4 linked regions of the Homo sapiens genome follow. The protein of the gene in region 1 purifies or fractionates together with the protein of each later gene. This does not show direct contact. Each region holds a gene or a part of one and is shown in the gene's direction. Other genes may lie near its edges.

Region 1 (3,567 bases):
GGACTCAGTAGTTTTCTTACATTGTAATACTAGAATTGAACAAAACTACTGAGTGAAATTGAATGGTATGTCTAAATATCTAAAATATAGGTGTTCAGGCCAGGTGCAGTGGTTCATACCAGTAATCCCACCACTTTGGTAGGCTAAAGCAGGAGGAACACTTGAGGTCAAGAGTTTGAGAGCAGCCTGGACAACATAGTGAGACCCTGTCTCTACAAAAAAAGGGAGAAATTTTAAATAGAATTTTTAAAAAAGAAAAAAATATAGGTGTTTAAAAGCAAGGGTATAAGTTGAGGGCACAGCTAAAGCTTTTACTTGAGATTTGGAAAGTGATTTTAGGTATTTTTTAAGGGCTTTATTAAAAAAGTTAGATCTTTCAGATCAAGCCCCGTGACTTTCTTTGTCTTCAGCTCAGAGCTGATCTTACATATGTCACCTACAATTTGGGTTCTTTAGCCAGGCGTGATGATGTGTGCCTATAGTCCCAGCTACTCGGGAAGCTGAGGTAAGAGGACCGCCTGAGCCCAGGAGTTTTGGGCTGTAGTGGGCTGTGCTAACCAGGTATCTGCACGAAGTTTGGCAGCAACATGGTGACCTTCTAGGAGTGGGGAACCACCAGCTTGCTAAGGAGGGGTGAACCGACCCAAGTAGGAAAGGGAGCAGGTCAAAACTCCCATGCCAATGAGTAATGGGATTGTGCCTATGAATATTCACTGCACTGCAGCCTGGCAACGTAATAAGACCTCGTCTCTAAATAATAATGATAATAATTTGTGTTCTTAACCAACAGAGAAAGGGTGTTTATAGTACTGTTATTCATGGTGCAACAGCATTTCCTGGCACACAAATCAAACCTCTCCTGTTTGCCTTTGGAGTGCTGTGGCCTTTGGCGAGAAGCCAGGTCTGCCCACAGCCCCAGGCTCTGTCCTTTCTGCCTGTGCAAGGTGGGAGCCGGATATTAGAGAAGACTTGGCCAGGGGCTCTGAGCAGAGAGCTGTGCTGGGAACCCTCAGGACCCCTATCCACTCCAGCTTCCTAAGATGTGTTAGCTGCATACCTCTGGGTGAGAAAACGGGCAGAGGAAGAGTGACTTTCCGAAGGGTGATGCAAACCACCAGCTCTTACAGAGGGGAGATGCCGGATCACGGCCTCTGGGTGTGAGAATTGAGGAGATGTGGTGTAGAGTTGAGAAGTAAGAATATCCCTGACAGTTTTTCATCCCCACCTCTTGATTCTGAGAAGAATACCCACTCAAAAATATCTGATGAGAAGATGTGGAGAGGCCGAGTGCGGTGACTTACACCTGTAATCCCAGCACTTTGGGAGGCTGAGACGGGCAGATCACTTGAGGTCAGGAGTTTGAGACCAGCCTGGCCAACGTGGTGAAATCCCTTCTCTACTAAAAATACAAAAATTAGCCAGGCATGGCAGCGCATGCCTGTAGTCCCAGCTACTCGGGAGGCTCAGACAGGAGAATTGCTTGAACCTGGGAGGCGGAGGTTGCAGTGAGCTGAGATTGCTCCATTGCACTCTAGCCTGGGCAACAGAGCAAGACTCTGTCTCAAAAAAAAAAAAAAAGAAGAAAAGACAAGCTGTGGTGACACCTTGTATAGCTTCTTCAGTATGTGATGTTCCTGTGCCTTCTGATTAGTGCTCAGCGTGGTTCTCTGTGTTAGTTCCATGACCTTCTACTTTTATGTGTTTCCAGTAATTTGAATAGATAACCAGGATTATTATTAATTGGTATGTGGTATTTGGAAATGCTGTATCTGTTCCTGAAACTTACATGTTGATGACGTACTCACCTCAGAATTTCTCTAGAAAATGCATAGGGCTTATTGAGAGGGTTGCTCAGTGGTGTCACCTTCTTTGTCCACTTGCAGCTGAAACATTAACAAACGTGCTGGATTTCAAAAGGGATGCTGGTCTGTGGCATGGCGTGTTAACAGTGAGTGTTGTTTGCTGATGACTAACTGTTGGAACAAGGGATTGAGATGAACCCAAGCCTCTGCCTGAAATGTTGTTGGGAGAGTACATCGGTTTTGTTTTGCTTTTTCTGGTGTGGCTCGGGCCCACTCGCCCTAAGCATGTGTGCTCCCCCACAGAGCGTCATGAACAGGATGCACGTGGTCAGCGTCCCCTACGCGCTGATGAAGGCGAACCCACTCTCCTGGATCCAGAAAGTGTGCTTCTATAAAGGTAACGGATACCATGGTCAGGGCCTTCACCCTTCTTTAGGGAAATCTCTTTGAACTGACCTTTGGTGCTTAAGAAAAAATAAAGCTGACATGTGGAACTGCAGATGTAGGCTGAAGAGCTGTGGGACGTCTTTCTTGGTCACACCCCTGCCCAGGAATATGGGGGCTTTCTCTGCCTCTGGCATGGCCCTCAGGGTTTCGTGGGTGATGTGGTAAGTAGGGCCACTTGGTGGGGTCTGGGCCTTACTTCTCTCAACGGTTGAGGTGCCTCCTGGGACCAAGCAGGAGGCCCCAGCATGGCCACACCTGCACAGTTGGCAGTCTGTGTCTCTGCCCTGTGGAGCTCAGTGGCACTTCTACCAGCCACTGAGGCACTGGATCACCTGGGTCACCCATGTTGCCTTGTTCTACCTACTGGGCTGTGCCCCTCTAGACATGTCTCAGAGCAGTGTGGAGGGGCAGCTCTCTCTGTCTGTCCTACTTTATGGAGGGAAACTGAAGCTTGGGTAGGGGTGGGGGGATTGCTGGATTCCACATGCTAGCCAGTGCAGGGGCCAGACTGAGGCCTGAGACCATCTGTTTAGCTTCTGGGGTCCTCACACTTCTCAGCCAGCACCAGGGGTTTGGGGAAGGACAACATGAGATGAAGCGGGCAGATAGGAAAAGAGCAATATGGAGCTTCTAAGAAAAAATTAATGTTGGAAATGGATCTGAGGTTTTGATGTCTAAATTGTACCTCAGAGTTGATTTTTGTGGAAAAAGCTTTGAGGGTTTGTTAGACTGCATGTGAGAGACGGCTGCAGAGAGCTTGTGACCTGGGAGCTAAGTGTTGTGTCTGTCTGTGCATGTACACCTCTCTGTGGGATGAGGTACACGTGTCTGTAGGCGTGTGAGGGTGCCAGTCCTTGTGACGCAGGGATGTCTGTGCCATCCTCTCTCTGCAGCTCGGGCCGCGCTGGTGAAGTCGCGAGACATGCACTGGTCTCTCCTAGCTCAGCGGGGCCAGAGGGACGTCAGCCTCAGCTCACTGCGCATGCTGATTGTGGCCGATGGTGCCAACCCGTGTGAGTGAGCCTGTGTGCCCGGCGCATACCCCACACAGTGTCCCCTCCTGCAAACCAAAGTAGAATACACTGAGAAGCAAAATGGAGGCATTTTCACTGCCATTGTCATATAGATACACATGTCCCATCGTTTCTATGACACGGAACATCTTGGTGATTCACTGGTTTATCCCATGCATGTTTATTAGGCCACTAAATTTAAAAGCAATTTTAATATGCTTGATGAAAGGTACATGCCTTAATGAGAGTCATCTTTCTTAAGAAATTACCAGATTGTGCTGTGGCCTGGGGTTCCTGTTTCTCTT
Region 2 (3,567 bases), on another chromosome or scaffold:
GCTGTCCATGTGAGGGATCCAGGCTCTTTTTGTGTCGATACTGTGTTACTTTTGACATGGGGTGGGTGCGTGCGGCTCTTAACAGAAAGATTCAAGTTTAATAGATACAGAAGAATTGATGGAATCAGAAGAATCATCATTTTGCAACCCCCATGGTAATAACTGGTTCAGAAAGTAGTCATCAGTGGCCAAACCATAGGTGAAAAGTTGTGCTGTGTGCAAAGTATCCAACAGATTATTTATTTAAAATGGAGGAAAATTCCTTTACAACTAAGATGTGGCTAATATCTCAGTTATAAAGGTACTTTAATGGGTCCGACTGACATGCTTTCTAATGGGGTGCAAAAAAAAAAAGATGGAGACTGTTTTAGATTAAAAGAGGCCAACAAATGAAAACCAAATGGGTATATAATGCTTGAATGAGATTCCTGGATTTTAAAAAATAGATGTATATTTGTCAGTAAACTAGAAGGAACTCAAATGCTAATCAGTTGAGGATTGGTTGAGTAAAATTTGATATAGCCAAACAACAGAATTCCATTCAGCCATTAAAAAGAATGAAAAGGGGGAAAAAACATGTAAAGGGCATTGTAGGGGTAGTTGGGTAAATTTGAATATGGATTATTATGAGGAGTTTTTTCCCACAGTAACAGATTCTTCAAAGCCAACTAAGTGTCCAACAATTCAATTTGATTCTGGACACTATCTACCTGGAGTTAGTGTCATATTCCACAAGTTAAGAGAAATCAGTTCCACAAGACTGCTCCCACTGCGGGCATGCCAATCGCAAGTCCTGAGTCGCTCTTTTTTTTTTTTTTTTTTTTTTTTTTTTTTTTTTTTTTTTTTTGAGTTTCCTTCTTGTCACCCAGGCTGGAGTGCAATGGCGCGATCTCAGCTCACTGCAACCTCCGCCTCCCGGGTTCAAGAGATTCTCGTGCCTCAGCCTCCCAAGTAGCTGCGATTACAGGTGCCCACCGCCACACCTGGCTACTTCTTGTATTTTTTATTAGATACAGGGTTTCACTATGTTGGTCAGGCTGGTCCTAAACTCCTGACCTCAGGTAATCCACCCACCTCGGCCTCCGTGAGCCACTGCGCCTGGCTTCTGAGTCACTCTTACTTCTGACCAACCAGCTGTAAATTAGGGATTCCTACAACCCCCTGCTCAGCTTCAGTAATTTGCTAGAGCAGCTCACAGAACTTAGGAAGCCAGTTTGCTTACTATTACTGGTTTATTATAAAGGATATATCTCAGGAACAACCAAACAGAAGAGATGCCTAGGGCAAGGTATTGTAGGTGCAGAGGGTGGGGAGATGCATGGGCCTTCTGGACATGTCGCCCTCCCTCATTGTGTTCACCAGTCTGGAAGCTCTCTCTAAACCCTGCCATTTAGGGGGTTTTGTGGCTAAAAATATATGTATGTATGATCAATTATTTCATCACGTATGATTGCATATGTGTGATCAATTATTAACTGAATCTCCAGCCCCTCTTCTCTCTCTGAAGGTTGGAAAGTGAGGCTGAAAGTTACAGACCTCTAACCAAGGCATGGTTTTTCTGGCAACCAGCCCTATCCTGAAGCTATCTGGGGGTCTGCCAAGAGTCTCTTCTTTGGATGCGAATGCTAAGGGATTTAAGTGTTCTCTGTCAAGAATCTGAGAGAAATATCAAATAGTAGGCTGGGTGTGGTGGCTCATGGCGGTAATCCCAGCACTTTGGGAGGCCGAGGCAGGCAGATCACTTGAGGTCAGGAGTTCCAGACAAGCCTGGCCAACGTGGTGAAACCCTGACCACTAAAAAGAAGTACAAAAATTAGCCGGGCATGGTGGCGAGCACCTGTAATCACAGCTACTCAGGAGGCTAAGGCAGGAGAATTGCTTGAACCTGGGAGGTGGAGGGTGCAGTGAGCAGAGATCATACCACTGCACTCCTGCCTGGGCAATAGAGCAAGACTCATATATCAAAAAAAAAAAAAGAAGAAAGATCAAATAGAACAAAAGATGCTCCTATCAGTCCTATCACTTAGAAAATTACAAGTTTTAGGAGCACTGTGCTAGAAACTGGGGACAGAGGTCAAATGTAGGAACTGGGGACAGAGGTCAAATGTAATGTTTCATGTTATGCCACAGCTATGGAGTAGATGATAATCACTATTAAATTTCTTTGGTGTAGTAATGGTTTTGGATTTAAGTAGCAGAATATCTTTATTCTTTAGGAATATAAGCTGAAGTATTAATAATTAGGGGTGAAGTGTCACAGTGTCTTTAACTTTCAGTTTGTTCCAGAAGATTGTGTGTTTAGAGAGGGATAAATATGGCAAAACATCTTTGTAGATTTGAAAATTTCAAAACAAAAGTTCAAGAAGGGGAATTGCACATTTATTCTTTCAGACAACCTTCAGGATCATTTTGTCAAGTTCCCTCAGAAATCTCACTGGTATTTTTGAAGGTTGCAATTAAGTTATTATAGGTTACTCTAGGGAATATTGGGCACATTTGCAATTTTGAGTCTTGTCTAAGAACAAGGTATCTCTCCCTTTATTCATGTTGGCATTATGCCTCTCAAAGTTGGAGTTTTGTTTTTATAGATCCTATACTCTTATGGTTATGTAGGTAGAATGTTTCTTGTTGTTTTTGAGAATGTGATTTTTACTGTATTTTGTTCTACTAGTTCTTGTTTGTCATAATATAAATATCAACAACTTCAGTATCTGTTGGTATTTCAGTTGGTTCTTTTGGGCTTTCTAGGTGTATAGCTAATGTTTCAAATGGTGATAAATATGCTCTTTTTTACTTGTAAATCTCTCCTATTGTCCTCTTATCTACTTACATTGACTAGAATTTCCTTTTTTTTTGAGACAGAGTTTCGCTCTTGTTGCCCAGGCTGGAGTGCAAAATGGTGCAATCTCGGCTCACTGCAACCTCTGCCTCCTGCGTTCAAGCGATTCTCCTGCCTCAGCCTCCCGAGTAGCTGGGATTACAGGAGTGAGCCACCACACCCGCTAATTTTGTATTTTTAGTAGAGACGGGGTTTCTCCATGTTGGTCAGGCTGGTCTCGAACTCCCGACCTCAGGTGATCCGCGCCCCCCACCGCCTCCCAAAGTGCTGGGATTATAGGCGTGAGCTACCACGCCTAGCCTACATTGACTAGAATTTCTGAAAGAGCATTAAACAGTAGTGATGCTAACAACTACTTTTGACTTGTTTCCTGCTTCACTGGAATTAATGCTACAGGAGTGTTTCACCATTAACGATAATGCTGATTGTTGATTTGAAAAATATCTGAGAATATGTGTGTCATATAAAGGAATGAATGTTGAATTTCTTTTTTTTAATTTATATTTTTCTTTTTTAAAATTTATTTTGTTGTTTCTGTAGTAGATATGAATGTTGAATTTCACCGTGCACTTTTGGTTTCTATCGTGGGATTTTTTTTTTCTATCATGGGATTTTTATAGGATTTTTCCTTCACTTCAATAAACTATATTAGTAGATTTCCTAATGTTGAATAGTGTCTCTTTTAAAATGAGATTGGCATATGGGGTTTTAAATTTGTTTTATATCAT
Region 3 (3,567 bases), on another chromosome or scaffold:
AGGTGGAGGTTGCAGTGAGCCGAGATCATGCCACTGCACTCCAGCCTGGGCGACAGAGTGAGACTGGATCTCAAAAAAAAAGAAAAAAAGCAAAACTTTCTCTCTCTCTCTCTCTCTCTCTCTCTATATATATATATATAATTTCTTTTTGGATATATAAATTTACACCTTGTAGCTTTGAGTCAGAATTAAATATTTTCTGTATTTGATGACTGTGTAGTCAGGGTTCACTGTGGGATACAGAAACCACTAGATATTTTAAGCAGCAAAGGATTCAATACAGGCAATTAGGTTTTAGGCAGGTCTTCTTAGAATAACTCCTGAAACAATAGGAAATTGATCCATTAGAGGAGGCAATACCTCTGAGGCTGTCATTGGAGCTGTGCCACAGCCCAAGTAGCACTGGCACTAGGGACCTGAAGTATGGAAGCTGCCATCCAGGGATTAGGGAGCTGAATGAAGAAGTCGCTGCTATAGTCAGTTTCTGAATACCTAGGAACTTTCAAGAAAACTAGCTTCTTAACAACAACAGCCAGAACTCCCAGTAAGGTGGTCTCTGTCTCACTTACACCTTCTAAGTTTTATGCAGATGCATCAGATGGTGGAACCCAATTCACAGCATCCTAGCAGCTAAGTAGAATGGTAGGAAGTGGTAGTAGAATAGGTGGAAAAATACAGTTTTAAGCTTTCCAGCCTCTGCAAGCAGAAGAGAGTGGATAGGTTGAGAATGTCAGTGATAGGATAGGTTGAGAGTATCATTAAAATGTAATTAATTGTTCACCAATTTCTTTAAATGGGGATTGAGTTGAGCGGACCAAAAAAATTATGCTGACATTTCTTCAACTTTCTGATTATTTTGTTTTTGATTAGGATTGGGCCGAGCCTATGCCCTGGCTTTTGCAGAAAGAGGAGCGTTAGTTGTTGGTAAGTTGGTGTGTTTTTCTTTTTAATCTGTAGCTGATAACTGAAATACAATCTTTACAAGCTATCTTTGTCTTTCTATCAAATAATTTGTCAAGGTTGAATTTTATTATTAATTTTTACTTTTGCCAGAAGGTTTTTACCCCGACTAAGGCTGTCTGTCTAAATTACTTTTAAAAGGGAACCAGTTTCACAGAATTCCCAGCTTAACAGAATTGATAACGAAGGGCTAGGGGGTAGGCATGCTGGCTTGTGGCTATAACTCCAGTGACTCAGGAGGCTGAGGTGGGAGGATCGCTTGAGACCAGGAGTTCGAGCCTGCAGAGAACTATGATTATACCACTGCACTCCAATCTGGGTGATGGCGCAAAAAAAACCCTGTTTCTCACAGAAAAGGGTGGGGACAAGCATTTATTGTATAAAAGGAAATTCTTGACTTCAGTAAATTGTAGGCTGTAATTTTTTGAGACAGGAGGTTTGTCTACTGGTGCGAGATCAAAAGAGAGCCCCTGTAAGTGTATTGATAAAAGTAAGAAATAACTGAATTTTGAGAACTGGAAGTTTGGAGTCAAGGAATCTAAAGTATGGGTTTCTTGACTCTTTCATCAAAACTTTTCAGCTGGAAGTGTTTTAAAAAAATTTAATTGAGGGGGCAGTTACATGAGTTTTTGTTTGTGGAGGGGTCAGATGGAAGATACTGTATTGAAGAATCCTAAAGGTGGGAGGTTTTAGTAATCTGCATGGTTTGGACTGATCTAATGTGCTTGACAGTTGGTGTGGACACAGAAACGAATTTGTCCACAACTGAGCCTTTCTGGGGAATAACTAAATGGGTGCTAAGTGCAGGGGGATATGTAGGACCCAGTACTTATTAGCATATTTCCTGGGATAAAACTGTGGGCCCACAATGATCTTCTAATTTCAGCTTTCTGACATCTTAACGAGGCAATACAGAGAGACGAATTTTCATCAGTTTGTTCAGGGAGACACATATAACAAAAGAGTAAGCAAGCAACCAGGTTTTCTAAACAAGCCCTAAGCAGAGCACTTGATACACTTTTCTCCTTCATTGTGGATGTGTAGCTTATCTTTATGGAAGGAACACTGACGCTTTGGATGTTCCTTGTTTAAGATCATAGGCACTGTCTGCTAATCCAATCTGCTTCTTCTGGCAGGGATGAATTTTGACATTGTATTATTTGGACAGCGAGTATATATTTCAGGCCCACTTTGTCAGATTTTCCCAAGAATAGCTCATGTTGAGGCCTAAAGACACATGCTGTTACTATTTTTAATTTTCCTTCCTTTTTATGTTGCTATTTAGTTCTTAATATTTTTACCTTATATGTTTTTATTTATTTACATCTTTTCTGCTCAATTCCATAACGGCAAGGATCTTGTTTTATCTTTTGTATCTACTAAAGGACCTAGAATATTTCTTTGTGCAAAGAAGGTACTTTGTTCATTGGTTCTTTTATTGTTGATATACTTTTCTGGGGGAAGGGTGTGTTTGAGATTGGTTGAATACATTTCTTTTTTTTGTTCTTGACTAAGATATAAACTTAGTTTATAAACCTGTTTTGTAAAAAATTTTATAACAGTGTGTTCCTGTGCATCAATTTTCCTTTATTTCCCTGTTCCCTCTCAATTTCTTAAATTCAGATTAGGAGTATTTGAATTCTAAGAAAAAATTAAACAGAGATGCTGTGTCTATCTATTTTGTCATTGCATTATTATAGTAGAGATGATAATTGTGTCAAGTCCTGATAAAAGTCCAAGAATATAGAAGAAAAATATTTCATAAACTTGAATGAAGAGCCAGATTTAGTTTAGTATTAAGGAGGAGAATTCAATCCATGTGGAAGTGCAGAAATTTTGACTGATGTTTTCTATTCCTTTTTAAAGTCTGTGTCTTACCTGTTAGCCTTTTTACATGTACACCATAGACACCGTGTTTCCAAGTTGCATCACACACACTAATTTTTTTTTTTTTTTTGAGATGGAGTCTTGCTCTGTTGCCCAGGCTGGAGTGCAGTGGCGTGATCTTGGCTCACTGCAACGTCTGCCTCCGGGTTCAAGCAGTTCTCTGCCTTAGCCTCCCAAGTAGCTGGGATTACAGGCGCCTGCCACCAAGCCTGGCTAATTTTTTTTTTTTTTTTTTTAAGTAAAGATGCGGTTTCACCATCTTGGCCAGGCTGGTCTTGAACTCCTGACCTCTTTTTAGAAGTGGCATGTCACTTCTACCGACATTTCATTGGCCAAAGGAAATCATTTGGCTAAGCCAAAAGTTAGGGGCATCATTTAAGATAGTCTCCAATTTTGTGTTAATATGATTGCTATGTTTTATATTCCATAATATAAAGCTTATGGGATATTTAAATTTGGTATAAGAACTGCTAAGCCTTAGGCTGATACTGTAAAAAGGGACATTTGCTTTTGTGTAAATTACATCTTTCAGGAAATGCTTGTGCATTTCTTAAGTAGGTTATTGGGAATTCAGTAGTTTTGAGGTTTCCTCAGTAGGTGAGCTATATCTAGTTCTCTGAATAGTAAGTTTTATTTTGAGGACATAAACACAAGAAGGACTGACAAAAAGGAGCAAAAAGAACTCCTTAGTAAAAGAAAGGGAGTTCTACTCTTGAACTG
Region 4 (4,076 bases), on another chromosome or scaffold:
CTGAGGCACAGAGGGGCTAAATAATTTGTCCAGTGAGTAAAAGATGGCTCTGATTTTGTGTTAACTATCTTTTTATTTACTTATTAAACTACCTCTTCTTTCTTATAATCATATCATTAAAGAATGGGTATTTTGCAGTGAGAAAGGGATCCACAACTCACTTTTTCTGTCATCTGTAACAATGTTTTTAAAATGTACTTTCTGCTTAATGAGCTTTGAATCCATCCACAAATACATCAAGTAGCTATACAACGTGGTGGGAAACTTTGTTATTTGCAAATGATAAAACCAAACACAAGGTTGTTCACCAGCTATTACGTAGCAGGCATCACAGAGTACACCTGTAATAGTGCTTTTCCATTACTGAAATTTCAGTACTGGCTCATCTGTTCTCTTGTTTCAAAAATCCAGAAGATGGGAACAAATTTATAAAGACACTTCACAAGGTTATTTATATCTATAAAACCGACTAAGCATGCATTTATTAAGCCCCCAGGTGTTGGGATTGTACTTGGCGAACATCTAAGGCAGTAAAATTACCTTTTCTGTGGTATTCTAGGGTCTACAGGAGCTTTTTTATTTTTGTTTTGAGATGGAGTTTCACTCTTTTGACCTGGCTGGAGTGCAGCGGTGCGATCTCGGCTCACTACAGCCTCCATCTCTCGGGTTCAAGCGATTCTCCTGCCTCAGCCTCCCGAGTAGCTGGGATTACAGGCGCCCGCCACCATGCCAGGCTGACTTTTTTGTATTTTTAGTAGAGACGGGGGTTTCGCTTTTTGGGCGGGCTGGTCTCGAACTACTGACCTCAAGTGATTCGCCCGCTTCGGCCTCCCAAAGTGCTGGGATTACAGACGTGAGCCACCGTGCCCGGCCACAGGAGCTTTTTAGAAGATGTTTTACGCCACACAGTAATGCAACACTGAAAAGACAAGTCGCCTTTTCTCTGCTTTTGCATCTCTTTCCTTAACTTCTGGAAATCTTTAAAGTTTGTCCGCCGTACTTCGACAGTTGTCTACCGAAGATTCTCAGCACATCTACCGGCTGAGCCCTGAATGTGTCTCTGAATTTCTCCCGTTGAAAGTCGAGGTCCCTGGGCTGGGCAGAATCTGGGCATGCGCAGAAGCTCAGCCAACCCCGGGGCTCCGCCTCCCCTCCTCTAGCGAGGGGAAACGGGTGAGCGGCAGCGCGCGTGCGCAAGCTTGGTGGTGGGTTGCGCCTGCAGAGCGCATGGGCAGATAAACCGTACGTCCGTTTGTCCGGACCGGAGGGGCAGTGGGCGCCATCTTCTTCTGGGCTCACTGAGGGTCTACCTGTTTTGGGGAGGCTGCTGCGACGAAGAGTTCCCTCAGCCTCCGGCCTTGTGTGTCCGACTCGGCAGCAGTGGTGTGTGTTTATTGCCAAGTGCGAAGCAGTTCCCCTCGGGGCGCCGGGGGTGGGGAGGGCTGGGCGACCAAGCCGGAAGAACGGGGAAAGGCGGGACCGGCGGCCGCGCCAGTATCTAGCGTAGCTCCTGCCGTTAGGGCACCCTCTTTTCTTGCTAAAACACCGACTCTTCCTTTCCCGTCAGCTTCCATGTGGTGGTGTATGTGCGCTTCCCAGGGATCTTGAGAGTGAAGATCTCGAAGGATTTCATAGGTATATTTTTTTCTTTGCTATGTCATCGTAGTCAGTGGTGGCAGAAAAGCGCTGCAGGCCCAGCTCGTTAGGCTTGAGAAGGGCAAGTGTTTTCAGTTAGATCTGGGGGCAGTTCACCCTCTGGCGAGTTAGGGTGGAATGTTTGCCCTTGAGACGGCGTAACGGAAAGGCACGGAGGTTGGGCGGTCCAGGTTAATTTGAAGGCTGATTTTGGCTGAAAGTCTGGCGACAACATCGGATCCCACGTAGCAACTTTGGCCTGGCGCGAAAGAAGGAAGCTCTGACCCCTGGGAGTTGTGGACAAAGGCTTTGGGCTGTAGAATCGATGCCTTCGGATGATTCCCGTTTGAGGATGTTGGGAGAAATCCTGTGCCATGTGGATTCGTCTTCATTTACAGTTCTTCCTAGGGACTGTGGCTCTCATTGGTCATTCCTTTGGTTTTTATTTTAAACATCTACATTATAAAAGGTGGATCATCGTAAAGAATAATTATGGGTTGGTGTAGATTATTTTCTGCAGGGGAAACTCACGTTTAGAGTGTGAATATGCTACATCATGACCTTGGGCTTTACGAAGTAGTCGCAGAGTTAAAAAAAATTCTCTCCCTCACCATATCTGGAAAATGACTTTTTCTTCGCTAGTTAAAAATCAAATGGATCTGATGAGATATTACTTATTTAAATTCTGTCTCCCTCCCGTTTCCCTCTCTGTATCCCCTTAAGTCTTGATTAGAAGAGGCACGTTACGTATTGTTTAGTTATAATGGTGATTAAGTGGGATGAATCGTTGGATAAAAATAGCAGTTATTTAAAATGCGCTTTAAATTTCACTGACTTAAGTGATCTTTTAGGGACCCACTCTTCTTTTCATAGAAATTTTAACAGATTATTGTCTTCAAATGAACACAAAGGCACAAAAATACTTTTTGCATTCATAACTAGAAAAACGCAAAATTTTAATTGCAGACTACTTGAGGGTAATTTTCGTGTTTTGCTTTTGTGTAATTTAGTGTGTTAAGAGTTGAATTTCTGGAGAATTTGCTTAAGGAAATATAGCATGTTGGAACCACAGAAGTGCCCATTTTGAGAGCTGGTCTCTTACAGTTGGTCTCCAAGGTGTGTTATTGTAGAGGCATAAATGGTACATTACCCTACTGTCTCAAGGGTAGAGAAGTTTAAGCATTAGTTTTGTTTAACTGTGGCAAATGAGAATAAACTTTCTAAATAGTCTGCTTGAATTGGAATTCATGAGATTTGTGCTCATGAAACTACTTGGTTAAAAGATAGTTTTTAAGTGAGGTAGGATAAATTACTAGAGTTTTTTTGAATTTGAGATATAATTATTCCTTGAAACGTCTCTAATTTCTCTTGTAGATGAATTTATGTTCCCAGGGTAAATCCCGTTAAAATTTTTTTAAAAGCTTAGGAGAGACAAGAATATGTATAGCTTATGGTGCTTTCTAAAATATCTTAAAAAGAGTAGCTAAGCCAATTTGCATAGGAGGGAGTCTTGGGACTTTAATATGGATAAAGTAAGTATTCCAGAAGCCATTTGTAGTTTTTGTTGAAGTGTTAGTATGGATATTGGTTTGTTGAAGAAAATAGGCTTTTTTTCTTTTTTTGTTACTGTGCAAATACTTTAATAGCAAACCTGATTAATATTTTTCAGATGTAGAATGTGTGAAGTAATTTGATGTCTTTGCTAGTTTAGCTTCTGGTTAATCTACGTACCCTTTTTTAAAGGAAAACAGACCTCAGTGAATGTATCTTCAGACCCCCACTTTGGGGAACAGTGGTACTTAAGTGTAAGTACTGGATTCTGGATTAACGCAACATTTATTTGTACATTAAAGACATGTAAATTACTCCAGGCGCAGTGGCTCATACCTGTAAATCCTAGCACTGTGGGAGGCTGAGGTGAGCTGATTGCTTGAGCCCATGAGTTCCCTACCAGCCTGGGCAACATGGTGAAACCCTGGCTCTACAAAAAATACAAAAATTAGCCGGGTGTGGTGGTGCACACCTGTAGTCCCAGCTACTGGGGAGGCTGAGGTGGGAGCATTGCCTGAGCCTGGGTAAGTCGAGGCTGTAGTGAGCCAAGATCGCACCAGTGCACTCCAGCCTGGGTAGCAGAGCAAGAGAGACCCTGTCTCCCCCACCAAAGAAAGTGAGTGTAAATTATAATTATTTATTTGGCAAGTCTTCATGAAATAGTTTGGGTATCCCTGAAAGTATTAAACGCAAACTTCTTTAAAAAATTACATTGAGATTTTTCAGTAAACGGGTAATCCCAGTATTCCAAGTTAATTTTTAATTTTACTTTTCTACATCATCATTTGGGTTTCCTTAGTAGAGTGCAGAATAGTTGTTTGAAATGGAAATCTGCTATTGGCATTATTAATAAGATAAATAGCATTTTCTGTTTGGCTTGAGATGAATTG

The links.
Region 2: the proteins of DIP2A (region 1) and NKTR purify together in Homo sapiens (affinity purification with mass spectrometry, with the first as the bait; one large-scale study listed by BioGRID). This does not show direct contact.
Region 3: the proteins of DIP2A (region 1) and HSD17B4 purify together in Homo sapiens (affinity purification with mass spectrometry, with the first as the bait; one large-scale study listed by BioGRID). This does not show direct contact.
Region 4: the proteins of DIP2A (region 1) and RBM12B purify together in Homo sapiens (affinity purification with mass spectrometry, with the first as the bait; one large-scale study listed by BioGRID). This does not show direct contact.

Annotation. Positions count from the first base shown.
Region 1 is NC_000021.9:46,535,341-46,538,907, forward strand, and holds part of DIP2A (disco-interacting protein 2 homolog A), read left to right. Parts: intron 1-1,883; coding exon 1,884-1,948; intron 1,949-2,105; coding exon 2,106-2,199; intron 2,200-3,142; coding exon 3,143-3,262; intron 3,263-3,567. UniProt on the Homo sapiens protein: Catalyzes the de novo synthesis of acetyl-CoA in vitro. Promotes acetylation of CTTN, possibly by providing the acetyl donor, ensuring correct dendritic spine morphology and synaptic transmission.
Region 2 is NC_000003.12:42,607,166-42,610,732, forward strand, and holds part of NKTR (NK-tumor recognition protein), read left to right. Parts: intron 1-3,567. UniProt on the Homo sapiens protein: PPIase that catalyzes the cis-trans isomerization of proline imidic peptide bonds in oligopeptides and may therefore assist protein folding. Component of a putative tumor-recognition complex involved in the function of NK cells.
Region 3 is NC_000005.10:119,455,445-119,459,011, forward strand, and holds part of HSD17B4 (peroxisomal multifunctional enzyme type 2), read left to right. Parts: intron 1-870; coding exon 871-924; intron 925-3,567. UniProt on the Homo sapiens protein: Bifunctional enzyme acting on the peroxisomal fatty acid beta-oxidation pathway.
Region 4 is NC_000008.11:93,738,188-93,742,263, reverse strand, and holds the start of RBM12B (RNA-binding protein 12B), read left to right. Parts: upstream 1-1,254; 5' UTR 1,255-1,383; exon of another isoform or gene 1,384-1,567; 5' UTR 1,568-1,635; exon of another isoform or gene 1,636-4,076.